7 linked regions of the Homo sapiens genome follow. The protein of the gene in region 2 interacts with the protein of the main gene of each other region in a biochemical or structural test. Each region holds a gene or a part of one and is shown on either strand. Other genes may lie near its edges.

What was found.
Region 1: the proteins of CDC42 (region 2) and EIF3F form a complex in vitro, tested with the Homo sapiens proteins (one large-scale study listed by BioGRID).
Region 3: the proteins of CDC42 (region 2) and NUDT21 form a complex in vitro, tested with the Homo sapiens proteins (one large-scale study listed by BioGRID).
Region 4: the proteins of CDC42 (region 2) and DNMBP form a complex in vitro, tested with the Homo sapiens proteins (one large-scale study listed by BioGRID).
Region 5: the proteins of CDC42 (region 2) and WIPF1 form a complex in vitro, tested with the Homo sapiens proteins (one study listed by BioGRID).
Region 6: the proteins of CDC42 (region 2) and VARS1 form a complex in vitro, tested with the Homo sapiens proteins (one large-scale study listed by BioGRID).
Region 7: the proteins of CDC42 (region 2) and XPO1 form a complex in vitro, tested with the Homo sapiens proteins (one large-scale study listed by BioGRID).

The regions. Positions count from the first base shown.
Region 1 is NC_000011.10:7,990,337-7,993,836, forward strand, and holds part of EIF3F (eukaryotic translation initiation factor 3 subunit F), read left to right. Parts: intron 1-1,444; coding exon 1,445-1,515; intron 1,516-1,747; coding exon 1,748-1,827; intron 1,828-2,550; coding exon 2,551-2,688; intron 2,689-3,500. UniProt on the Homo sapiens protein: Component of the eukaryotic translation initiation factor 3 (eIF-3) complex, which is required for several steps in the initiation of protein synthesis.
Region 2 is NC_000001.11:22,076,709-22,080,208, forward strand, and holds part of CDC42 (cell division control protein 42 homolog isoform 1 precursor), read left to right. Parts: intron 1-1,720; 5' UTR 1,721-1,770; coding exon 1,771-1,875; intron 1,876-3,500. UniProt on the Homo sapiens protein: Plasma membrane-associated small GTPase which cycles between an active GTP-bound and an inactive GDP-bound state. In active state binds to a variety of effector proteins to regulate cellular responses. Involved in epithelial cell polarization processes.
Region 3 is NC_000016.10:56,448,533-56,452,640, reverse strand, and holds the start of NUDT21 (cleavage and polyadenylation specificity factor subunit 5), read left to right. Parts: upstream 1-1,308; 5' UTR 1,309-1,438; coding exon 1,439-1,554; intron 1,555-4,108. Other genes in the region: prolyl 3-hydroxylase OGFOD1, read right to left, coding at 875-1,028. UniProt on the Homo sapiens protein: Component of the cleavage factor Im (CFIm) complex that functions as an activator of the pre-mRNA 3'-end cleavage and polyadenylation processing required for the maturation of pre-mRNA into functional mRNAs.
Region 4 is NC_000010.11:99,880,948-99,884,447, forward strand, and holds part of DNMBP (dynamin-binding protein), read right to left. Parts: intron 3,263-3,500; coding exon 3,064-3,262; intron 254-3,063; exon of another isoform or gene 156-253; intron 1-155. UniProt on the Homo sapiens protein: Plays a critical role as a guanine nucleotide exchange factor (GEF) for CDC42 in several intracellular processes associated with the actin and microtubule cytoskeleton.
Region 5 is NC_000002.12:174,587,805-174,591,304, reverse strand, and holds part of WIPF1 (WAS/WASL-interacting protein family member 1), read left to right. Parts: intron 1-3,500. UniProt on the Homo sapiens protein: Plays a role in the reorganization of the actin cytoskeleton. Contributes with NCK1 and GRB2 in the recruitment and activation of WASL.
Region 6 is NC_000006.12:31,789,253-31,792,752, reverse strand, and holds part of VARS1 (valine--tRNA ligase), read left to right. Parts: intron 1-236; coding exon 237-361; intron 362-448; coding exon of another isoform or gene 449-451; coding exon 452-536; intron 537-781; coding exon 782-882; intron 883-1,015; coding exon 1,016-1,143; intron 1,144-3,500. UniProt on the Homo sapiens protein: Catalyzes the attachment of valine to tRNA(Val).
Region 7 is NC_000002.12:61,482,857-61,486,356, reverse strand, and holds part of XPO1 (exportin-1), read left to right. Parts: intron 1-394; coding exon 395-589; intron 590-2,251; coding exon 2,252-2,420; exon of another isoform or gene 2,421-3,265; coding exon 3,266-3,400; exon of another isoform or gene 3,401-3,500. UniProt on the Homo sapiens protein: Mediates the nuclear export of cellular proteins (cargos) bearing a leucine-rich nuclear export signal (NES) and of RNAs.

The sequences.
Region 1 (3,500 bases), on a different chromosome or scaffold from region 2:
GTAAATATTTTAGGCTTTGTGTGCAGTCTCTATCACAACTACTTAATTCTGCCTTTGTAGCAAGAAAGCAGCCATAAAAAAATTGGCGTGTAAACTTTATTCACAAAAAACATTTCTAGATCAGGGCCTGGCCTAGAAAAGGAACATTGAATAAAAAGACAAGAGAACAGAGACAAAACCCTAAAAACCTAAAAAGTCAGGAAGAAGTAGCCAACAAGATTAGAAAGGTAGGAAGAAAACTAGAAGGAAAGTTTTAAGATGGGAAGTAAGTGGTCAAGTCTGTTCAACGCTGATGAGAGGTCAAATAAGATAAAGGATATATGTGCATTTGGTTTAGGGACATAGTTTCAGTGAAGGGAGCAGAAACCATAGTGAGTTGGAATTAGATAAACACTGGTAGATATAGACAACACTGTGGTTTCTGGTGGAGAGGGAAACTTTTAAATCCTGGGGTAGGAGGTTCCAATAGATTAGAAGAGAATGGAAAACTCAACGTAGTGGTCTTAGGTCAAGAAACAAATGTAGTGGGAATAAATAAATAAATAAATAAATAAATAAATAAATAAAAGAAATACAGCCTGGGCACCATGGCTCACACTTGTAATCCCAGCACTTTGGGAGGCTGAGGCAGGCAGATCACTTGAGGTCAGTAGTTCAAGACCAGCCTGGCCAACATGGTGAAACCCCGTCTCTAGTAAAAATACAAAAATTAGCTGGGCGTGGTGATGCGCACCTGTAGTCTCAGCTACTCGGGAAGCTGAGGCAGGAGAATCACTTGAACCCTGGAGGCAGAGGTTGCAGTGAGCCGAGATTGCACCACTGCACTCTAGCCTGGGCGACAGCAAGATTTCGTCTCAGAAAAAAAAAAAAGAAAAAAAGAAATATGGAAGTAAAGGTATCAGAACTAGAACAAAAGTTTGTGGTAAAAGACTGACTTCTAAGGTTCGCAGATAGATTTCTGGATGATGATAAGGTTAAGACTGACCATGGGACCAGATGGCTAAAGGGAGGTACAGATGAAGCTCCTGACGTCTCAGTGTCTGAAACTTGGCCACTATATTAGCAGTCTATGTAACCATTAAAATATTCCAGGTAGCTCTGCAGATTAAATTACAGGGAGAAAGTGTAGAGGCTGAAAAAAAAGGCCGTAGAGTGAAGGTCTGGAATAGGCTAGTAGTGGAGAGTAACAGGCAAAAGGAGACCTTGTAAAGGAAGAATAAACCCTATTTGGTGATGATTAGAGGGAGAAGTTGGCGATCACACCACAGTTTCAGTTCCCTGGAGAATTCTGGTCCCATCGATGCACCGGACTAAACTTGGAGCTAATGAGTTCAGTTAGGTGTTCATTGACATTGAAGAGATCATCAAAAGCATTTCAAAAGTAGTCAGAGGTTGTTGGGAGCCCTAGGATTATATAACACATGGACGATTCTCTCTTTCACAGGAACTGTCGACAAACACTCAGTGGAGGTCACCAATTGCTTTTCAGTGCCGCACAATGAGTCAGAAGATGAAGTGAGTGGGAATCCAAGCTGTCCCTCTGCAGTTTTTAGCTGTTCATTTGCTCGGCTCCCCTCACGGTCCCTCCCACACTCATAACTAGAGCTCCTGTAGCCAAGGAGCTTCTTCCCATTTGTACGTACTTCCTGGGCCTCTTCTGTTTATTGGGGGTGGCCTCTTGTCCTTTTTAACCAATTTTTCTTTGGACTTCTGGCTTCTTAGCTTGCTTTCCTGCCTTCCCTCTTAGGTGGCTGTTGACATGGAATTTGCTAAGAATATGTATGAACTGCATAAAAAAGTTTCTCCAAATGAGCTCATCCTGGGCTGGTAAGTTGGGGAGGTGGGGGCTGGGGTTAATGGAAGGTCTCTTCGTGATTGCCGGTGTCTTTTGCTACTGGACTGGATCTTATACTCTTCCTTTTGGAGGCAAGAGTATTGCAAGTGTATTACTGACTGTGAGCAGTGGCTCAATGCCTGTAATCCCAGCTGGGAGGCTGAGGCAGGAGGATCACTTGAGCCCAGTAGTTCAAGATCAGCCTGAACAAAATAGTGAGACCCTGTCTCTACAAAAACATTTTTTAAAAACTTAGCCAGGCATGATGACACACACCTATAGTCCTAGCTATTCAGGAGGCTGAGGCTAGAGGATCACTTGAGGCCAGGAATTTGAAGTTGCAGTGAGCTATGATCATGCCTTGCCACTGCATTCCAGCCTGAGTGACAGAGTGCGACCCTGTCTCTAAAAAACAAAAGGAAAGTGTGTTACCTGTAGGAACTGTGAATTCAGTGGGTTTTGCTGGTGGTTCTGATCCTGTGGGGCCAGGATATTTCGAATTACCTTGTAAGTGACTTGGAATTTTTCATCAGCACTAAGTCAGCCTTTGATTTTATTTGACATAGTTTTCGGTGTGTGTATTGCTCTTGGCAGTTGGTGTCACTAGGTGTCCTACCGTAGAAGTGTCCGGTACCCTGAAGACACCCATGCCACTGTTGTGTTTGATATTGACGCCACATATAGACAGGAGTCCACCACTGTGTTCCATTTCACAGGTACGCTACGGGCCATGACATCACAGAGCACTCTGTGCTGATCCACGAGTACTACAGCCGAGAGGCCCCCAACCCCATCCACCTCACTGTGGACACAAGTCTCCAGAACGGCCGCATGAGCATCAAAGCCTACGTCAGGTGACCACAGTCTTGGGCTACAAGGGCATAAAACCATGCCCAGATGCCATCCCTCCCCCACCCCAAGCAAGGTTAATTCCTTCCATGTGTAACTTGCTGTGTCCTTAGGAAGCCTGTTCCTCTCTCTCAACAGTTATTCTAAAGGTTTCACTCTGAAACAAAATCTGTTCCTGTAATTTCTACCGCTGATCCTAGTTGTACTCCAGTTTCTACTCATTGCCCTTTTAAGTATTTGAGCAAGCTGTCAAGTCATCTTTTGTAGGACCTAACTATTCCATAGTTCCTACAGCCAATCATCACATGGTATTCTTGTCATGATCCTTCACCACATTCATTACTTTTCTGAATTACCCATTAGTTTGTCATTATCTCTAGAACTCAGCACAGCGCTCAGGGTAATACAGATTATAAGGATGACTGTCCTTATTTTGAACACATTTATTAACCCAGGATTGAGTGCAGTTTTAATGACAATGACATTACAGTGAACACGTTGAGCTTGCAGGTGGTTAAAATGCCAGTTATGGGGGATGTTGGGAAAGGCCCTGGTGGCATGCTGAGGAAGCAGCTGTGGTAGTTGGAAAGACCATGGTCAAAGGGAAGGCAGCTGTTAGTGCATCTGTCAGGCTGTTGATTTTGTGCTGGTTCTGTGTCTGACACTGACATAGCCAGTTAACTCTTACACAGTACACAGTAAGACAAAGATGGTGGATGCCAAGTCTTTATGAGCCAGTTGGCATACCACTAAGCACTAGCCATTGCCTGACTTCTTAACCTTCCCAGGTATTTCAGACTCCTCAAGATCCAGTATA
Region 2 (3,500 bases):
AGATTTAACCAGTAATTGATTGATCTTAGGGATCAGGGTTGTTAATCTTTAATGCTGTATTAGTTAGTATGGGTGCTTCTTAGTGCATAAAAGGGAAAGGAGAAGGAAAAAGGAGATATAAAAGGAAGTTGAATAAAGAAGGATAAATATGGCTGGCTGCGGTGGCTCATGCATGTAATCCCAGCACTCTGGGACTTTGGGAGGCCGAGGTGAGTGGATTGCTTGAGTCCAGGAATTCAAGACCAGCCTGGGTAACAGTGAGACCCGTCTCTTAAAAAAACAAAAACCAAACAAAAACCCAGCCGGGCATGGTGGCATGCGTCTGTGGTTCCAGCTACTTGGGAGGCCAAGGTGGGAGGATTGCTTGAGTCTGGGAGGTGGAGGTTGCAGTGAGCTGAGGTTGTGCCACTGCACTCCAGCCTGGGTGACGGGAGTAAAACCCTGTCTAAAAAAAAGAAAAATATACTGCAGATAATTTTGATGAGGAGCGGGAGAGTGTATATTTCATGTGAGTTACTCACACTAATGTAGTTTCATGTTCTTTTGTTTCGTGATTTTTGCATCCAATCAACAACTCACAGTGTGTCAGTCTAGAAGTGCTCAGTGCTAGAAGTATAGTGGTGCATGAGGTAGTATAGGTTCATTTACAGGGATGTTAATAGGCATTTATAAATTGTTATGATTAATTGTTGTGAATGGTGCTATAGGAGCATGGTGGCATCTGACCAAGAGTTAGGTGGTTCTGTATTTTTATGTTTAATTATAACCCCTTTAGGATTATAATTTAAATTAATTTAAATATAAATCTTAAAATTTAGGTACATATTGGGTGGTGTTTCTTTTTATTCTTTCAGAAAACTGTTAAAGTATTTCATTGAATCTAAGATTCCAATTTCATAGAAGTCAAAATGTGGGGGAAAAATGGCTGATAATGATTCTAAGAGACTCAAAGATACATTCTGACTTTAGAGATGTTAACATGAAAAAAAGCATCTCAAATTAATGACTCTTTGGTACTTGTAATTGATAGCTTCTTAAAATGGAGGAGGACTCTAGTAAGAGAAGCTATAGTATCTGTTTATAAGTCAGTATGCTTTAGAGCAATCTGACTTTTTCATTATAAAAATGTAGGTTTTGGACTAGGCATTCTGGTGCTAAAACAGCTGCTGAGGCCAGCGATCACCCTGTTCTTTGTTCAGTTCCTCACGTTACTCATATAATTACCGTGTGATCGTGTGGTGCTCTGCTGCTTGTTGGTCAGAGCCTGAGTAAGGCTGAATAAGGCTGGATCATGAACCATTCTTTAAAGCAGTGGCCTTTGTATTGCAGTCTAGTTGACATACATGCATACATACAGGTGTGTGTGCACGTGTAACTGAAGAACAGCTTTCACAAAATAATATTTAGCACACTGTGGAATTTTCTCTGATACAGCCTCTTCTCTTTCATGATAAAAATAAATTCGCTGATTATCACACCACTTTGGACCTTTTAAAAATAACACTTAAGAAGTTGGAATAGCCAGGGATCAGAAACTTAGAAATGGACCTTATTTGTTATTGTAACTTATAGCAAGTCATTGTGTCTCTTATTGGGTTCTTTTAGCCATAATAATTGTGCTAGTTCTTTTCTTGCTCTGAGTGCCTGAACCTGTTGCTAAGTGAGGAAGAAAAATCCATATGTAAGTATAAATAAACAAATGTCTTTAATCTTTTTGCAGGTCATCATCAGATTTGAAATATTTAAAGTGGATACAAAACTATTTCAGCAATGCAGACAATTAAGTGTGTTGTTGTGGGCGATGGTGCTGTTGGTAAAACATGTCTCCTGATATCCTACACAACAAACAAATTTCCATCGGAATATGTACCGACTGTAAGTATAAAGGCTTCCTTCTGTTAGTAAAATGTTGTAAAATTTGATATCCTTTTGAAAACGCTTTCTCTATGTGTACTGAATTTTTTTCTGTTGTCTGCCTTTGTTTCCTGTTTTTAAAGATCTTGACTTCTCATGGGTAAATTATATACACTTTAAACAGCTGAAAAATCAGTGGAAAGTCAGAAGGGGTGACACAGGGTTTGCAAGAAGTGCTGGGAGGCAAAACTCCAGTAGACAAGATTCTAACGAGTGGTGGTCTCAATTTGGTGAAGTATGCCCTACATCTTGGAATGAGGTGACTTTTTTTTTTTTTTTTTTGATATTTTGGCCAATTATTGATCAGTACTTGGAGGTCTCCTGGGATACCATTTGAGGTCCTGTAACTTGAGAGAAAGTAGTATGTGTCTCCACTTTTCTTGTGGAGCTGTTCGCTTAGCAGTAATGGAGCTCCAAACTGGTTCTTAGGGGCAGAGAAGAGAAGACCTGTTATGTTTCGAGAACACCAACAGAGTCCTTTGGGGGTCACTCCCACAACTGTTCTTTTCTTTTTTTCTTTTTTTTTTTTTTTTTGAGATGGAGTCTCTATCGTCCATTCTATCTGGAGTGCAGTAGCGCGATCTCGGCTTGCTGCACCCTCCGCCTCCCGGGTTCAAGCAGTTCTCCTGCCTCAGCCTCCTGAGTAGCTGGGATTACAGGCGCCCGCCACCACGCCTTTCTAATTTTTGTATTTTTAGTAGAAACGGGGTTTTACCATGTTGGCCAGGCTGGTCTTGAACTCCTGACCTCAAATGATCCACCTGCCTCAGCCTCCCAAAGTGCTGGGATTACAGGCGTGAGCCACCATGCCTGGCCCCATAACTGTTTTTTAAATCAACTCTTTGGAATGGTAGAAGGAAGATGGGAATAACAAAAATATTGAAGTGAGAGAGAGACAAGAGTTAGAGTAACACTCATTTGTGAAAGGTAGTGAGACCCTGTCTCAAAAATAAGGAAAGTTTTTTTTTTGAAGGGGGGAGAATTTGAAGGTATTATTAAACACTAAAATCATATTGATATTTTGAATTGGCTCATTTGGAGACAAGATAAATGGAAGACGTTTTGAGGTTCAGTGGACTTACAGGGGACATTTAGAGGTACATGAATCTTGTTTCAGAGTGAGGACAGCTATCAGAATTTTTCTGTTTCAGTCTCCATTGAAGTTATTTACTTGTAAACATAATTTCTGAGTCTTTTATGACTTTGATCTTCTGGTGTTATATTTTAAGTGGGCTTGTGGGTGTTTTATATGTATGTTTGTGTTGTACATCTCTGGAAAAGTGATAGAGTGGAAGGAAGAGTAGTAGTAGAATAAAATTTTAAATGAACCGATTTAGGTAAATGAATGGACCATGAGGCACAAGTAATGTTCTCATGGTACCTGTTGAAGTTAATATGGAAATGGATTTGGTGTAGAATGCATTTAAGTTCCCATCTATGAGTTGGGGCTTGCCATTTCTAGAGTAATAGAAATTCAGAGCTGGATGGGACAATATATATTGTCTTACCCATCTCTTAATGGATGAGGGTACTCAGGCCCAATTTAGGGATGAGACTTAGAAGTCTAAGTTTAATTACTTAGCGTA
Region 3 (4,108 bases), on a different chromosome or scaffold from region 2:
ATTCTACAGATGAAGAAACTGAGAGTACAGAGCCTGCACTTAAACACTAAGCTATCGTTTTCTATAGGCATCCAGCCTACCCAGGACTCACCTCTTCAAAGCACTTGACAACGGAAAGAAAAATTACGGCAAACTCTAGAAGGGGATGCCTGGCGCATGAAGCAGAGCTCTGAACACCTAAGGTGATATTTAAAGCTGAGGCTGGAATCGTTCAACGTAGGCGCCTTTCCTTGGTCAAAGCGCGTTTATTTTCATACATCATGGAGTCAAACTACAGGCGCGTAGAGACGAGTACACTAGGGAGTCAAGCTGGCAGCTCACGACAAATGCCCTGGCTAGACTCTCCTGGGACAGCTGAGCAATGCCCTTGCAGGAGAAATGACATCAGCCACTCCTGTATTTGTCCACATGTGTATTGGGCCTTACTCAGGGAAACATTTACTGAAGCCTGCAAGCATTAGTGTGTCGCTCCCATTCACCGACTTTCCGAGGTAAATATTATGAACTATCCCATTTTACTTAGGAAGCAACTGAAGTTTAATAAGGTTAATTCCATTGCCTGGCGACGCCCAATCAGGGGAGAGGATTCTAACTCAGTAATCTTTGACTCCAGAATGCAACTATCTCTTGCATACCCTCTGCTTCCCAAAACTCTCCGGCCTCCATTTCTCCCTCTTCTCACGTTTCTAAATTGCAACCGAATTTGGAGTGAAAGGGAGCAGCAGCCGAGGCAGGAGAGTAGGAGGTGGCCAAAGTCCTCTAAGAGCCTCTTCCCTTGCGGCCCCGCTGCCCAAGGCTGGGCGCGAGTCCCAGGGCTTTTTCAGAGATCCCTAGACCTCTGCGTGGCGGCCCCTCCCTGAGAGCACCCGGTTACCGTGACTGAACGGCGTCCTGCGGCTCCAGGCCTCAGCCACCTGCTTTTTCAAGGTTTCTTCCGTAACAGCGTCCGAAAACTCCGCCATCACCTCCTTCTTTCCCTTTTTTCCCACCCGGGCTGGGCCGGGCTCCGCTGGCCGCTTCCCATTCATCTCTTCCCAAGGCACAGAACCACGCCACGCAGATCAAGACGCTACCTTCCTGAGGGTACTGCAACTCCCGGCATGTCCCCTTTATCGTGTTTCCCGGCCCTACCCAATGGGAAGCACCAAAGTAAGAGAAGGCGGAACCTATACCCGGTTTACCAATGGGAGCTCCAGCTATTGCAGCCATCCCACCAGCAATTGGCCCACTGGAGCTCGGTCTGGCAGGCCACCGCCCCTCTACTTCCTGCCGCCAGAGGCTCCGGGTTCACTTCCGGCGTGCCTACGCCTCCTCTTGCGCTGTCCTGTTAATGGCGGGCAGTAGCCGCTGAGGGGATTGCAGATAACCGCTTCCCGCACGGGGAAAGTCTACCCTGCCTGCCACTTTCTGCTCGCCGTCAGCGCCGGAGCTCGCCAGCATGTCTGTGGTACCGCCCAATCGCTCGCAGACCGGCTGGCCCCGGGGGGTCACTCAGTTCGGCAACAAGTACATCCAGCAGACGAAGCCCCTCACCCTGGAGCGCACCATCAACCTGTAAGTGCGGCGCGGCCTTGGCGGGCATTTCTCTCGTGAAAGCTCCTATAGACTCTCCGACGCGCCCCCGGCTTTTCGGCGCGCTTCACGCCTCTGCACCTCCCCGCCTCCAACTCCCGCTGGCGGATGCGCGCCTTCCTCCCTCTCTCAGGCCCCTTTCTCATCCTCCAGCCTCCAGGGTTAGAGTCCTTTTCTGAAAGGAAGGCTTGTTCCCATCCTATGTATTCGGTCATAATGGGGAAAAACGGAGTTTGCTTTTAACTCATCCTTTCCCCACCTCTCCAGAGGTAACCGACTTCAAAATGTGTGTTTTTTTAATCCTTCCAGTGAATTGTTTATGCTTTCGCATCACGTACATGGTATTGCTTTGTGAGTGTTGATGTGATACGAATGGTATAACCTAGTATCATTTTTGCAGATTTCACTCTGACAGTAAGGTTTCGAGATCTAGCTGTAATGCCTAGGTCTAGTTTTCTTCCTTTTAGGTGCCACTTAATACTTCAGTTTTTGAATACAACACATTTTATTCATGTGCTCAGGGCTGTCTGCCCTGCCCCATGCCTTATGCCTTCGCGTCGTCTGATGTCTCAATGCCGGCATCCCAGGCACCACAAGTAGGCCCCTCCTTGGGAGTAAGGATGCTGCTATGGTTGGGCTTTCAGACTGGAGGGAACCAGAATGTTTGTACCAGAAAACCCATTGTGGGCTGTGTTTTATTTTCAACACCTTTCTGTTTCAACACTTCAAACCATTGCATTTCAAGGTCATTCTCAGAAGCAGACTCGCTGTAGCAGGTAATTGGCGTTTGGGGTGTCTTAATCAAGAAATTGTCAGTAATGCTTTTTAAAATCGTTTCTGAGGATTTGTTTTCGAGGCAACGCGGTGCCTCCATTTTATGCCAGGATGGAGGAAAGTGGCCAGTTTATGCCAGTCAGGGTACAAGTGCAAGGATTTGGTGGTATTGATGTTTTCGTAAGGCAGTTTAGGTGTTTCTCTGTTTCATATTAAAATAAACGGACATTGTCTCCCCGTCCCCCAACCAAAAGTGATTTGAAGTTGAAAAGATGGTTAACATTGTTTTATTTTGCAAAACGTGTTGGCTTGGAAATTTAGATAATGGAAATGCTGGGTTTATAAAATCTGGAATTAGTTGATAGTTGTGTGTATAAAAGTTCTCAGGAGTGGCGGCTCACGACTGTACTCCCAGCACCTTGGGAGGCTGAGGTGGGAGGATCACTTGAGGCCAGGAGTTGGAGATCAGTCTGGGCAACATAGGCTGTCTCTACAAAAATTTTTTTAAAAATTAAGAAAAAATCCATCAAATGGTAAAGGCAAATGTTATCCTTTTTAAAAGTGTGAAAGCACAGCTTCTGGATTACTTTCGGTGGTTATTAGAACTAAAACCCACAGTCTTTTCTTGTTTTGTCTTGATTACTGAATTAATTTGCATCCAACCATTTTGTAGAATTGGCAAAATAGTTAGCTTTCAGTAAGATATTTTAATCTTCGCTCTATTAAAATTATGGGTTGATTTACAGTACATTTCCTCTCCTGTGTAAATACAAATATTCAGAAATAATAATTGTGTTGTGAACTTAAGTTCACCTGAGTTAACATTAAGTTGAAAACAAATGCCCTCTCCCCCAGTATATTTTATTTTAGGAAATATTGCATGAATGCCTACTTTGTACCAGGCACTGTGCACAATACTGGATATACAGTGGTGAGGAAGTAAGGTGTAGCCCCTGCTTTATGAAGCTCACAGTATGATGAGAACAATATGTATGTCTGGGCTGGCACTCTGATTTCACAGGTGAAAATTCTGACATTTCATCTTCACATCTCCTTACTGATATATTGGAGCTGGCTCTTGCAACAGAGATGTGTAATGGCTATCCTTAATTCTTTCTAACTCAGGTTGTCAGAATTAAATGTTAATATATGTAAAGCGTTTTAAAAAATTGCTTGGCACGTCGTTCTATGTAGCATATCTGCTGCTGCTATGGATGATGGTTTTAGATTTAGCATTGGATCTACCGGGGATGTTCTTTAAATTTTTAAAGCATCCTGGAATGGTATATTTTAATTATTTTAGAGCTTTTTCATATGCCTAGAACTTGGCTTCTGGAATTAAAGTAATTTTTAAAGTTTTGGCAACCTTGATTTTTTCCCCTTTCAAGAATGGCTGAGTGGGGTAGATACAATAATGTTGACTATTAATGTCAAGGGCTTTTGGTAGAATAGATACCTTGGATGGGCAAATGTGGCCTAAATTCGTACTCAAAGGCTTCTTGCTGTAAGGCTTTAATTAAGGGCTTACAACATATAAGTATGGATTTTTTAACTATCTTTAAAGAAAAATTTGATCCTTATTAGGCAAGATGAAAACTGTCTTTAACAGTTTGAGCCATATTTTAAATTATTGGTAAAGGAAGAGAGTTTTCGATTAGATATGGTGGGTAGAAGATTCAGATGAGGAGAAGGAAACAATAAGGAGACTGAATAGAATAAATGCCAAAGGCTAGTAAATAGGTTTAGAGGACAAAAAGAGAAA
Region 4 (3,500 bases), on a different chromosome or scaffold from region 2:
GGGTACAGTGGCTCATACCTGTAATCCAGGCACTTTGGGTGGCTGAGGAGGGCAGATCACCAGAGGTCAGGAGTTCACAACCAGCCTGGCCAACATGGTGAAGCCCCGTCTCTATTAAAAATACGAAAATATTAGCCGGATGTGGTGGTGCGCACCTGTAATCCCAGCTACTCAGGAGGCTAAGGCAGGAGAATCGCTTGAACCCAGGAGCCAGATGTTGCAGTGAGCCAAGACCATGCCATTGCACTCCAACCTGGGCAACAAGAACGAAACTCCGTCTCAAAAAAAAAGCCTCAGCTCAAGAAGCCCCTCCATAGACCTCCCTGCCCTCTTTCCCACCAGGACACGTGAATCCTTTGCTCTGAGAGTCTGGATATACTGGAAGGATGTTCTAACGTAGGAAACTGTTTGTTAGAATATACACGTAACGTGTACTGCACATGGTTCACTTTAATAAATTGCCCAAGATGACCAAGGGGGCTTTCAGCTAAAACTCAAGTATAAATTAGGGATTGCGTGAGCATCCACGTGACAATTTTTCATAACACTGTCAAGGCACAGACCCAGAGTATGTAGCCTCCATGAGAACAATGGCCATTACTCTATTGATCTTTGATGCATTTCCTGTACCTGACAGCTGATCTGAATACTGTGGCTTCCTGCTACCACTTCTCAAGTTTGAGTAGATAAAAACTGAAGGATGGAGCAGTTTCTTAAACAGCTTGGGACTTTAGGTCCATCTGTCTCTGACCCCAGCAGTAGCTGTCACCTGATGTCACCCTAACAGGCTCCATCCTCTGTCCTTCGTGTCCCACTTTTAATCTCTCGTTCTGTGTAAGCAGAAGTGGGGAGAAAAAAAATCCACAAGATGCTTTTAAAGAAACCAAGAAATGTGACATTTTTCAGTTCTGGGTGGTGAATACATAATGTCTGTCTAGATAGGGACCACAATCCCTACCTAAAATGCTTAGGGCCAGATATGTTTTGGAATTCAGATTCTTTTTAATTCTGGGAAGGTAGTCAAGTACCCATACTACATATTTTGTAAAACCCCCCAGCAGGGTCAGCACCCCGTAATCAATTCTGTTAATGAATATTCAGAATGAGATCCTGTCATTTGCGGCCACATGGTTGAACCTGGAGGACACGTTAAGTGAAATGAGCCAGGCGCAGAAAGACAAATACCATATAATCTCATTCACGTGGAATCTAGACAAGTTGATCTCATAGAGGTTGAGAGTAGAATGCTAGATACCAGAGGCTGGGGGTGGTGGAAGGGGAGGTGAGTCTGGGGAGAGGTTGCTCAACAGGTACAAAGTTAGGAGAAATAAGCTCTGGTGTTCTATTGCACAGTAAGGTTACTATAGCTAATGATAATGTATATTTCAAGATGGCTAGAAGCCAAGGATTCTGAATGATATCTCTGCAAAGAAATGACAAGTTTATAGCCTGGGCAACACAGGGAGACTGTCTCTACTAAAATAAAATTAACTGGGCATGGTCACGCATGCCTCTGGTCCCAGCTACTCAGGAGGCCGAGACAGGAGGATTGCTTGAGCCTGGGAGGTGGAGGCTGCAGTGAGCCAAGATTGTGCCCCTACAATCCAGCCTGGGTGACAAAGCTAGACCCTATCTCAAAATTATCGCACCGTACCCCATAGATATGAACAAGTATGTGTCAGTTATAAACTAAAACTTAAAGTATCTCACATAATTGCAAATAGGAAAGTTCTGATGTTTTTGTGTCATTCATGTTGGAGATGTAGTCATCCACCCATGATGTGAGCAACCTCTTGGCTGAATCAGATTGCAATCAAGCATTTAAAAAAAAATAAGGCCAGGTGCCGTGGCTCATGCTTGTAATCCTGGCACTTTGGAAGGTCAAGGCGGGATGGAACACCTGAGGTTAGGAGTTGGAGACCAGCCTGGTCAACATGGTGAAACCCCGTCTCTACAAAAAATACAAACAGTTAGCCAGGTGTGGTGGTGCGTGCTACTTGTGAGGCTGAGGCAGGAGAATCGCTTGAAGGCAGAGGTTGCAGTGAGCTGAGATCGTGCTGCTGCACTCTAGCCTGGGTGACAGAGCTAGACCCTGTCTTAAAAAATAATAAAAATGAAAAATACATACACATGACTATTCACACCAAAAGGATAAGTTACAATTATAAATAGTCTCACATCACCTTCATTCAGGTTTTGGCAAAAGTGTTTTTAGAGCTTTTTGGATTTTGGAAAAAGGGATTACAGATCAGTATTATCCCTTGTACACTTACTTAAATTCTGTAAATCACTCTCCCTCCAAAAAAGTTGTAAGCTGTTTTTAAAGTAATTCCCTAAATAGTCATGAGGTAAAACTGTCATGGGGAGAAGAAAGCAAATGAAATCCCACAGGTTTTTAATTTCCACAAGACAAATTCATGGAAACTGGAAGAGGTGCTGGGTGCGGTGGCTCACACCTATAATCCCAGCATTTTAGGAGGTCCAGGCAGGAGGACGGCTTGAGCCTAGAAGTTGGAGACCAGCCTGGACAACATGGCAAGACGTAATATCTATAAAATTATTAAAAAATTAGCTGGGCATGATGGCATACCTGTAGTCCCAGCTAGGACAGGAGGATCCCTTGAACCCAGGAGTAATAAGCTATGATTGTGCCACTGCACTCCAGCCTGGATAACAGAGCAAGACTGCCACAAAAAAAAAAAAAAAAAAAAAAAAAAAAAATTTGAAAAGAGGGCAGCTTATTTTGTGGCATACTGGGAACAGGCTAAGAAGGAACAGGATTCCGTGAGGCAGGACTTCCTGCCTGTAAGTGCTGTAAGATATGGCAAGAGCTTGCATGATAAGCAACGGTGTCTCCTCTGGAATTTGTCAAAACAAAAAGAGGTTTTGTTTCAGTAATGATCTTCACTCTCTAGAGAAGGTTAAGGTTATTTTTCAGGTTATTTTTCCCCTTAATCAAAGATACTTTTTGCTTTTTTTTCCTGGCCTAGTCCAGATTCGGGTGCAGCCAAAACTACTATTTTTTTTTTCCAGTTACAGTCCTCTGCTGCTTAAAATTCTTACCTCCATTGTCAATCAGCCAGCGGTTCTGGCTGCCCATGGGGTCTTTTTTCTTAATCACACCCACCAGGTCACCTTCCAAAAGTGAGACATCCAAGTCTTGAGCAGCATTGAAGTTCCGTTCTGCCTGGAAGAGTTTTTCAGGGGGATACCTGGCCAGGAGGGAGGCCCGGAGTTCTTCTGACTGTAGCATGTAACTTGGCTGAAAGGTAAGACGTTAACAAAAATCTCTCAGTGGCCACTACCCCAGCAGCCATATTTCATCCCAACATGTGGCCAGTCTCAGAAATGAGGCAGGGACAGTCAGTCACTGCCCATCTCACTCCCATCAGATGTTTTTGTGATGAAGCCAGCCCATGTGGCTAGGTAAAAATCAAGAGCCCTTAGGCAATGTTTGATGCCTTTATAGTTAAGAAAATTTAACACACACCTATTCTTAC
Region 5 (3,500 bases), on a different chromosome or scaffold from region 2:
GCTAGGACTGCCATAATAAAATACCACAGCCTGGGTAGATCAAATAACAGAAATTTGTTTTCTCCCAGCTCTGGAAGCTGGAAGTCCAAGATCAAGATGTGGGCAGGTTTGGTGTGTTCTGAAGCCTCTTTCCTTGGTTTGCCACCTTCTCACTGCGTCTTCACTTGAAGACTTTCCTCTGTGTGAGCACATGCCTGATGTCTCTTCCTCTTTGTATGAGGACACCAGTCAAATTGGATTAAGATCTCACCCAATGGCCTCATTTTAGCTTAATCACCTCTTTAAAGACCCTATCTCCAAATACAGTTGCCTTCTGAGGTCCTGAGGGTCAGGAATTCAGCATATCACTTTTGCAGGGGACATAGTTCAGACCGTAATACTGTATGTGAAAACAAAAGCCTTTTCTGTCCCTTGAGTTTTCTTTGTGTTTGTAGAAGTCAACACACCAAGTAAAGATTTTAGAAAGTCTGGCTTTTCTATCATGAAAGTTACTTAACATTGAAATTATTCTTAAAAAGAAATTAATTCTGAAAAGTGTGACTTCTTAAAAGTTCATTGCTTGGGTTGGGGTGGGGTAGGAGGGCAAGGCCCAGCAAGTGGGTAGGCATGTGATCCGACACTACTGAGAGCCCAACTAGTCTGGGAAGCCGGACACAGGCACAGCAGATTCTGATGCAGGAGATGACTGACCACACTGGGAAACTGCTGCTGAGTCCCTTCCCTTCTTGCGTCTCTCCTGCACCCGAATCAGCTGCCTTTCCTGCCATGCTCCCATCTCCAAGGGAAGAACCAAATGCTGGGAGGCCCAGTCATCAGTCAGCCTCATTCCCACCCAGGCAGATCCACCCACAGCCACTGAGCAAAGCTGTGGCCCCTCAGACTAGCCTCCAGGTCCATCCCTCCTCTGCCAGGCACTCAGCAGCTTGTACCAGCAGGACCCATCCTCACCCTCTGAAGGACAGAGCTAAGCCCTGTCCACTGACAGCTTTGCTCCCCCAGGCCATGCTGAAAGCCTTGCACACACCATTTCATTTAATCTGCTCAGCAACTTCCCATTTAACAGATGGGAAAAACAAATTCCCATCTGAATCTGCCAGGTGGCAGAGCAAGGATTCAGAACCAAATTTGCCTGACCAAGGTCTCATGTTCTCCCTTTTTCATTCTATAAACCCACTGGTAAAGCCCAAAGGACTCCTTTTTTTAAAAAATTTAATTTTAATTTGTTTTTATTTTATTTTATTTTATTTTTAGAGATAAAGGGCTCACTTTGTAGCCCAAGCTAGTCTTAAACTCCTGGGCTCAAGCAGTCCTCCCACCTTGACCACCCAAAGTGTTGGGATTATAGGCATAAGTCACCACTCCCAGTCCCAAAGGGACCCTTTTGTGTCTACGTTTAAATGCATAAAATAAAATACAGAGAATTACAAAGGAAACTAATTTATTAAAATATGTACTTCTTTATTAATGGTTTAAACAACAAGATCTAGCAATGGATCTAAACGTTGCCAGCATGTTGAAAATTGTTGGTGTGTAGTTGTAATATGATGTGAAATATCACGTGAAAACTATGGGTGAAAGAATATCAGATATTATGGTTTGTGGCCTGCATTCATAATCAAAGGAAATGCTACATTTCAGTTAGTGCTTAGTAGAAATAATATGTACTTTTTTTTCATACAAGTTCATGAACCCTTGAATTCTATCCACAGACTCTGGGTGTGAGGATCCAGGCAGGAATGCCTGGTCTGTTAGGATCCGTGCTCTAGGGCCAAGGCCTTCAGTAAGATCTGGCTGTGGCTCTGATGTGGGCTGTCAAGTCCATGAGAGGAGGGAAGCCCTCCTCTCCCAGGGCCTTGGGGCTCTACTTCTCTGGGGAAGTTGGAGGCTGCCAGGAAAGTAAGTTCCAGTCTGCAACACTAGCAAGCCCCTCTGAAATAGGGCTGATTCTTTTGCCCAGATCTCACAGTGCGGTGGGGTGATGCTGGGAGCCCTTCAAGTGGCAAGCACTCGGCTTGTTTGTGTGATACACAGTTCTTTCACTGCATATATATTTAGTAAGAACCCTACTTTGTGCCAGGTATTGGCAAGACCCCATGGAGTCCATAGGCTGGTGGAAAGACAGCCAAGAAGTGGGCCTGGTGTGGCCGGTGGGCCCAGTGTTGGGGCACACGAGCTTGGTCTTTGATCCAGGGGCTGAGTGAGGTGGCAGTATTGGAGTCTGGGGTTTCTCACACACTTCCCTTGAGGCCCCAGCCTGGAGAAGTCCAGACCGTGCCCAGCAGTTGTTCAGCTAGAAGGGAGGAGAGAGGACATGGCAGCCTCCCTCATCTGTGTTACCATTGAGATTGGAAAGGGACAGTTAATCTGGAGGGGAGTGAGAGATGGGGCCAGGGAAAGCAAGCCATGCAAACAAGTTCGCAGAGGAAGAGAGGAAAGAGCACTTAGTTCTGCATCACCCTCTAAAAAGTGAGAGCCCTCACCCGTAGACCCTCTCCCCACTGTCCATCTGAAGTGGCCAGGAAGGAAAGGCAGCACTTCTTTCAATACCTCAGACCCTTTAATAGCATCTTGCTCCCTGAACCTTGTTTTTGCCTGCTAATTTCTGCAATCTGGCCTTGGCTCTGGCCCCAGCCATGACTGTTGCCATTTCTCCCACACTAGCCCTCTGGACCATGAAGTTAACACGCCCTCCCTGGAGCTGTCATCCAGAAGTTAATATACAAGTCAGTTAGTGCACAGACAGTACTAAAACAGCAGCAACAGAGAATTGTAAAATAATTAAGGAGGCCTTTCAGGGTGGCAGCCCCTGAAAGGGTCCCCATTCCACAGTCTGCCCCCTAAGCTGTGCAGGACAGAAGTTCAATTTGATCTCTGTTACGAGAGCCGAACTCATGACAACCATACCCATAAGAGGTTCCTGTTAGTTGACCAGAATATCCACCCTTTCCTAGATATTAGGATCACAGAATGACAGAAAGTTAATCGGTGAACGTGGAGTCAGACAAAATAGTCTTGAGGGATTTTTCATCAACCAAGCACGTGGATGCACTGTTCCCACAGCCCATCTCTTGGGCCCACCGGGCAGACCAGGCTATCCCCCTTCCTTGGTAAGCCTTTCCCAACTCTGATCATACCATTGATTTGGCTCCAGCATCTTTCGCAGTAGTCAGGCCTGAATCAGATCCCTTTCGTTCCTGCTGGTCCTAGGAGACGTCTGACTCCAAGGCCTCTGAATGTGCCGCTGGAGATGCCCCTTGATGGAGGACCCCCTAACACAGGCACCCAGTCCTGCTCACAATGCCCATGTGGCCCTATGGGTGACTAATTGATGTCATGCCAGAAAGAGCAATTTAAGAAACAGACTTTAAAAGAATCCTTGCCTGAGACAGTCTCTTACTGAAAACAGATTCCAGCCTAGTTAACAGGTGAGCTGTGGCACTAATTCGCCTGCCTGAAAGTGTTTATCAGACCATTAAAAGGGCAGTGAGTGAGTGAGGCAG
Region 6 (3,500 bases), on a different chromosome or scaffold from region 2:
GGAAGGGCGAGGAGTTGGAGGATAGGGGCTTCCCTGGGGCCTTCCATGCAACTCACTTTCTTTTTTTCCTAGAAATGGCAGAATCACTGGGGCAGGGTCCTGCGGGAGAGGAGGGAGAGGGGGGAGGTCAGCATGGGCAAGACCTCGGGCATCTAAAATACCCCATCTGAAACCTAGTATGGCCGTCCAAGAGGGTCCCCAGCTGGCTGAGTCTGAATTTCTGCACCTCTCTCTAGGCCCCGAGGCTCCTGCCCTCCCAAAGACAGCTGCTCAGCTCAAGAAAGAGGCAAAGAAACGGGAGAAGCTAGAGAAATTCCAACAGAAGCAGAAGATCCAACAGCAGCAGCCACCTCCAGGGGAGGTGAGGCGAGGGTGGAGCTGGAAGGAAAGTTGATGTGTGCGGTGATGGGTTGGCTGATGCCTGGGCCTATGTCTTCTCCCTCCCAAGCAGAAGAAACCAAAACCAGAGAAGAGGGAGAAACGGGATCCTGGGGTCATTACCTATGACCTCCCAACCCCACCCGGGGAAAAGAAAGGTACTAGGAGTGGGAAGGGGCTCACCCCTCAGCAGCCCCTTCTAAGTTTTCACCCTATCTTGCTCTATTCTTGCTCTCACCACTTTGTTTGGTGAGGAATTGCAGACCCCCTGCCCTGCCTCTAGGCCCCTCAAATGCCTGTCCTATGATGTGAGTGACGGAGATCCCGATCCCTCTCTGCCAGCACGTCTCCTTCCCAGAGTGCTCCCAGCCACGGCACTGAGCCCTCCCTTCCTCTCCCCCAGATGTCAGTGGCCCCATGCCCGACTCCTACAGCCCTCGGTATGTGGAGGCTGCCTGGTACCCTTGGTGGGAGCAGCAGGGCTTCTTCAAGCCAGAGTATGGGGTGAGTAGGCACTGCTGCCCAGGCCCAGAGTGGGTGGGGTGGGGAAGGGCAGGACTGAAGGATGTGTTGCCTGGGAGGGGCTGGGAGAGGTGACCTGAGGCCTTAAACATGTGCCATCCTTCTCCACCATCAGCGTCCTAATGTGTCAGCAGCAAATCCCCGAGGTGTCTTCATGATGTGCATCCCACCCCCCAATGTGACAGGCTCCCTGCACCTGGGCCATGCACTCACCAACGCCATCCAGGACTCCCTGACTCGATGGTGAGCTTCTATCTGCACCTTCCTCTGGTTCCCTCTGCCTAGTCTGGCTCTCTCCTTTTCCCTGACAGCCCCCCGAGCCTCTCTCCTTCTGGGTTGGTGCTCACTTCTGCCCCCAGTGGTGCTACACTTCTCTCTGTCATTCCAATCTGATCATTTAGCTTCCTCTCCTAGTCCAGTACTCCCATGCAACACCGCCACTTGCAGACTCTCTTCTATCCCTTCTTTCTTTATTTAATTTTAATTTAATTTAATTTAATTTTTTGTAAAGATGAGTTTTCACTTTGTTGCTCAGTCTGGTCTCCAACTCCTGGCTCAAGTGATTCTCCTGTCTCAGACTCCCAGAGTGCTGGGATTATAGGTGTGAGGCACCACACCCAGTCTCTCCCTTCTTTTTCTAGTAACAATAACATTATTTTGAATTTAATTAGGAACATATGAATATATATATTTTTTTTTGGGGGGACAGAGTCTTGTTCTGTTGCCCAGGCCGGAGTGCAGTGACGCCATCTCGGCTCATGGCAACCGCTGCCTCCTGGGTTCAAGTGATTCTCCTGCCTCAGCCTCCCAAGTAGCTGGGATTACAGGAATGCGCCACCACAACTGACCAAAATATATGAATATATTCTTGTAAGAAATTTAAAGTTTCAAATCTCCTTGACCATCCCCCTCCACACCTACTTCCTCCTAAGATTTAGCCATTGTTATCACTTTGATGTGTATCTTCCCAGATCTTTCCTATTTACTTACATATACACGTACCCATAGAAATTTATAGTTCTCCTTTTGGGTGAGTCTTTTCTATTTTTTAACATAAAGGGTTCATATTACACTTGTTATGATCTAGCTTTCTTCTTACACTTAATACTTTCTCTTGGAGATCTTTCCTTGTCCTTACACACATACCACACATACTGACTTCCTTCTTTTTAATTGTTCCATAATATCTCATAGTGTGGCTGTACCATAGTGAAGTCATTCTTTTTTTTTTTTTTTTTTTTTTTTTTTTTGAGACAGAGTTTCACTCTTTTTGCTCAGGCTGGAGTACAGTGGCATGATCTCGGCTCACCGCAACCTCCACCTCCTAGGTTCAAGCGATTCTCTTGCCTCAGCCTCCCAAGTAGCTGGCATTACAGGCACCTGCCACCGCGCCTGGCTAATTTTTGTATTTTTAGTAGAGATGGGGTTTCACCATGTTGGCCAGGCTGGTCTCAAACTCCTGACCTCAGGTGATCTGCCTGCCTCGGCCTCCCAAAGTGCTGGGATTACAGGCGTGAGCCACTGCTCCCGGCCTGGAGTCACTTTTTAATTAATGATTCATTCTGTTTTTTGTTTTTTGTTTTTTTTCTGTTGAAAACCTTACTCTAATGCACATCCCTGTATATCAAGTTTGTCCAACCTGCAGCCTGTGGGCCACATGCGGCCCAGGACGGCTTTGAATGCAGCCTAACACAAATTTGTAAACTTTGTTTAAACATTTAAGAATTTTTTTGCGATTTTTTTTTTTTAGCTCATCAGCTATCGTTAGTGTTAGTGTATTTTTTTAAATTTATTTTTATTATTTATTTATTTATTTATTTTTTGAGACGGGTCTTGCACTGTCACCCAGGCTGGAGTGCAGTGGCACAGTCTCGGCTCACTGCAAGCTCCAAACTCCGCCTCCCACGTTAACGCCATTCTCCTGCCTCAGCCTCCCAAGTAGCTAGGACTACAGGTGCCCACCACCACGCCCGGCTAATTTTTTTTTTGTATTTTTAGTAGAGACGGGGTTTCACCATGTTAGCCAGGATGGTCTCGATCTCCTGACCTCGTGATCCGCCCGCCTCGGACTCCCAAAGTGCTGGGATTACAGGCGTGAGCCACTGCTCCCAGCCAGTGTTAGTGTATTTTATCTGTGGCCCAAGACAATTCTTCCATGTGGCCCAGGGAAGCCAAAAGATTGGATACCCCTGCTCTATATGCTTGCTGAAGCATGTGTGGAAGGGTTTCGCTGGTGTAGCTATCAAGAAGTGAAACTGCTAGGTCGGCAGGGGCACACCTATATTAAGTACAAACGGAAGCTGCCAAGTTGCCCTGCAGAATGGCTTTGCTGATTGATACCTCCAGGAATTGCTGTGAGAGTGTTCATTTCCCCACCCTTGCTAAGCCTGAGCATTAGGGTTGCCTAATTAGTTTTGCCAATCTGATGGGCAAAAAAATACCTCTGTTGTTTTACTTTGTACCTTTCTGATTGCTATTGAAGTTGTGCCTATTTTCATGTTTTTTGGCCAGTCAGGTTTACCCATATGTGAATTGTCTGTATCTATCTTTTCCCCGTTTTTCTATTGATTCTTCGTTCTTTTTCTTTTTAATTTTTTTTT
Region 7 (3,500 bases), on a different chromosome or scaffold from region 2:
TCTTATTGTGAGAGTTTTGTAGCTGGGCATGGTGCTATACCTATAGTCCCAGCTACTCAGGAGACTGAGGCACAAGAATTGCTTGAACCTGGGAGGTGGAGGTTGCAGTGAGCAGAGATTTGCCACTGCACTCTGGTCTGAGTGACAGTGAGACTGTCTCAAAAAAAAAAAGTCTTGAATGACAGTGTGTCCATGAGACTTCCCAACCCATTGTGATTTCCTGCTTTCTTTTGCTAAAAACTGTTTTGACGTAGGAAACCCTAATACAAACACAAGATTTTCCTGTTTTCAGTAGATGATCATGCTACATCTCATAGACAGGAATAACCTTGTTGTTTAAAATAGTCACCATGTACCTAAATTAAAACATAACTTTTTTTTCCCTCCCCAACAGGTCGCTGAAAATTTTGTTCCCCCTCTGTTGGATGCAGTTCTCATTGATTATCAGAGAAATGTCCCAGCTGCTAGAGAACCAGAAGTGCTTAGTACTATGGCCATAATTGTCAACAAGTTAGGGGGACATATAACAGCTGAAATACCTCAAATATTTGATGCTGTTTTTGAATGCACATTGAATATGATAAATAAGGTGTGTAATATTTCAGTTATGTAAGGGGGAAATTCTGCAGGATAGCCTTAATTCTTGAAAGCTAAAGTATGTCTGTGGATATAACATAATTTTAATGCCATGGAGTTTAAATATTTAAACTTGTATATTAGGGAAATACTTTCTTGGTTTTCAAGAACTTACTTCCCAGGAGTTTGAAACCAACCTGGGCAATATAGTGAGACTTCATCTCTACAAAAAGTTCAAAAAGTAACCAGTCATGGTGGCATGTGCCGGTAGTCCCAACTACTCGAAAGGCTGAAGTGGGGGGGGGGGTCACTTGAGCCTGGGAGTTCAAGATGGCAGTGAGCTGAGATTGCGCCACTGCACTCCAAGAAGAAGAATTTACTACACAGAATCTTGATTGGTAAAAAGTAAATATGGAAAACAGATTTTAGCATTCACATGGTATGTAGCATTTATTGAAACCTCATAGGTCGGGGCATCCTTTTATGAACGTAGTTGTATTAATTGGTTTGAATAAATGAGAAAGTAAGTCTGCATGTTTCAATTATAAAAGTGTAGTATATGCTTATAAGAAACTGAAAAATGTGTTAACAAGAGAAAATAGGCTGGCCATGGTGGCTTACACCTGTAATCCCAGCACTTCAGAAGGCCAAGGCGGGCGGATGACCTGAGGTCGGGAGTTCAAGACCAGCCTGCCTAACGTGGCAAAACCCCATCTCTATTAAAAATACAAAAATGGCCAGGCGTGGTGGCTCAACACCTGTAATCCCAACACTTTGAGAGGCCGAGGCCGGTGGATCACCTGAGGTCAGGATTTCAAGACCAGCCTGACCAACATGGTGAAACCCCATCTCTACTCAAAGATTAGGCTGGGTGCCGTGGCTCACGCTTGTAATCCCAGCACTTTGGGAGGCCGAGGTGGGCAGATCACGAGGTCAGGAGATGGAGACCATGGTGAAACCCTGTCTCTACTAAAAATACAAAAAATTATCCGGGTGTGGTGGTGGGCGCCTGTAGTCCCAGCTACTCGGAGAGGCTGAGGCAGGAGAATGGCATGAACCCGGGAGGCGGAGCTTGCAGTGAGCCAAGATCGCGCCACGCACTCCAGCCTGGGTGACAGAGCAAGACTCTGTCTAAAGAAAAAAAATTAGCTGGGCATGGTGCCGCATGCCTGTAGTCCCAGCTACTCGGGAGGCTGAGGCAGGAGAATCTCTTGAACCCAGGAGGCGGAGGTTGCAGTCAGCTGAGATTGCGCCACTGCACTACAGCCTGGGTGACAGAGTGAGACTGTTTAAAAAGAAAAAAGAGATAAAAGATACGTTAAGTGGACACATTTACACGGTAACTTAAATTTTTTTGTAATCTGTAGTGGTGATTTCAAATTAAAAACAAAAGTGATAGTAGTAGTCTTATGGTAATAATGGTTTAGATGAGTTCTCTATTAAAAAGGTTGTCTTTCTCCTTCAATTTGATAACTCATGTGCGTAACGGGACAGTTTCATTTTCCGTGAGAGGTGGATTGTATTTTACTTGGGTTTACCTTTCAGGAGGCATTCTATCTTCTGTGGTTTATTGAAAACTCCAAATATTTATACTGGATTAAGCCTTGCTTTTCCCCTCCTGTCTAGCACAACAAAGACACTGAAACATTATTTTGTTTCCACCACTTATTTTTAGGACTTTGAAGAATATCCTGAACATAGAACGAACTTTTTCTTACTACTTCAGGCTGTCAATTCTCATTGTTTCCCAGCATTCCTTGCTATTCCACCTACACAGTTTAAACTTGTTTTGGATTCCATCATTTGGGCTTTCAAACATACTATGAGGAATGTCGCAGATACGGGTAAATAAAAGATGTTCTTTTATTCATTTGCCTGCCAATCCAAAAATACAAATATAGTTAATTGTACATAGGAAGGTATTACTTGTTCAGAGTTTTGAGTGTGTGAATTACATATATGAACATCTGAGAAAATCCTATAAGCAGTTTAATCAACTGTTCCACTCCACTCCAAGTGAGTCCATAGGCAGAATTGAGTTATGGGGAGAGCGGCCTAGTAATAATTGGTTTGCGTAATACAAAGTTCTACTGGGTAGTGATGTTGTAGAAGTTCATATAGAATCAGCTGAGCTTTCAGAAATGGTGAAAGGGTGGTAATAGTCATAACTTAGATTGTAATTTTTTTCCCATAGGCTTTTAAAAAATATTCATGAGGTTCTTTTTTTATTTCAATAGTTTTTGGGGAACAGGTGGTTTTTGGTTACATGAATAAGTTCTTCAGTGGTGATTTCTGAGATTTTGGTGCACCTGTCATGTGAGCAGTATGAACTCTACTTTATGTGTAGTCTTATCCCTCATGTGTATGAACTCCACCTTATGTGTAGTCTTATCCCTCACCCACTCCTGCCCTTCCCCACAAGTCCCCAAAGTCCATTATATGATCTTTATGCCTTTACATCTTCACAGTTTAGCTCTCACACAACTTATTATAATTTATAAGTAAGCCAGCATTGGATATAGTTGTATTCCATTATTAATTTAAGAAACCTTATGCAAGTAATTATTAGTCATCATCCCAAAAAAAAGGGAGAACAGGGTTAGATTCAGAATACTTTGATAAGAGCTAAATACTATCATGAGTGCTGTCAGTCTGTAGTAACTTTCCATTGGTATTCTATGTCTTTTAGGCTTACAGATACTTTTTACACTCTTACAAAATGTTGCACAAGAAGAAGCTGCAGCTCAGAGTTTTTATCAAACTTATTTTTGTGATATTCTCCAGCATATCTTTTCTGTTGTGACAGACACTTCACATACTGCTGGTAAGAATTTAATACGATTTAAATGTTAAGTGCCAGCTGGGCACAGGGCCTCACGCCTATAATCCCAGCACTTTGGGAGGTCGAGGCGGGGAGATTATGA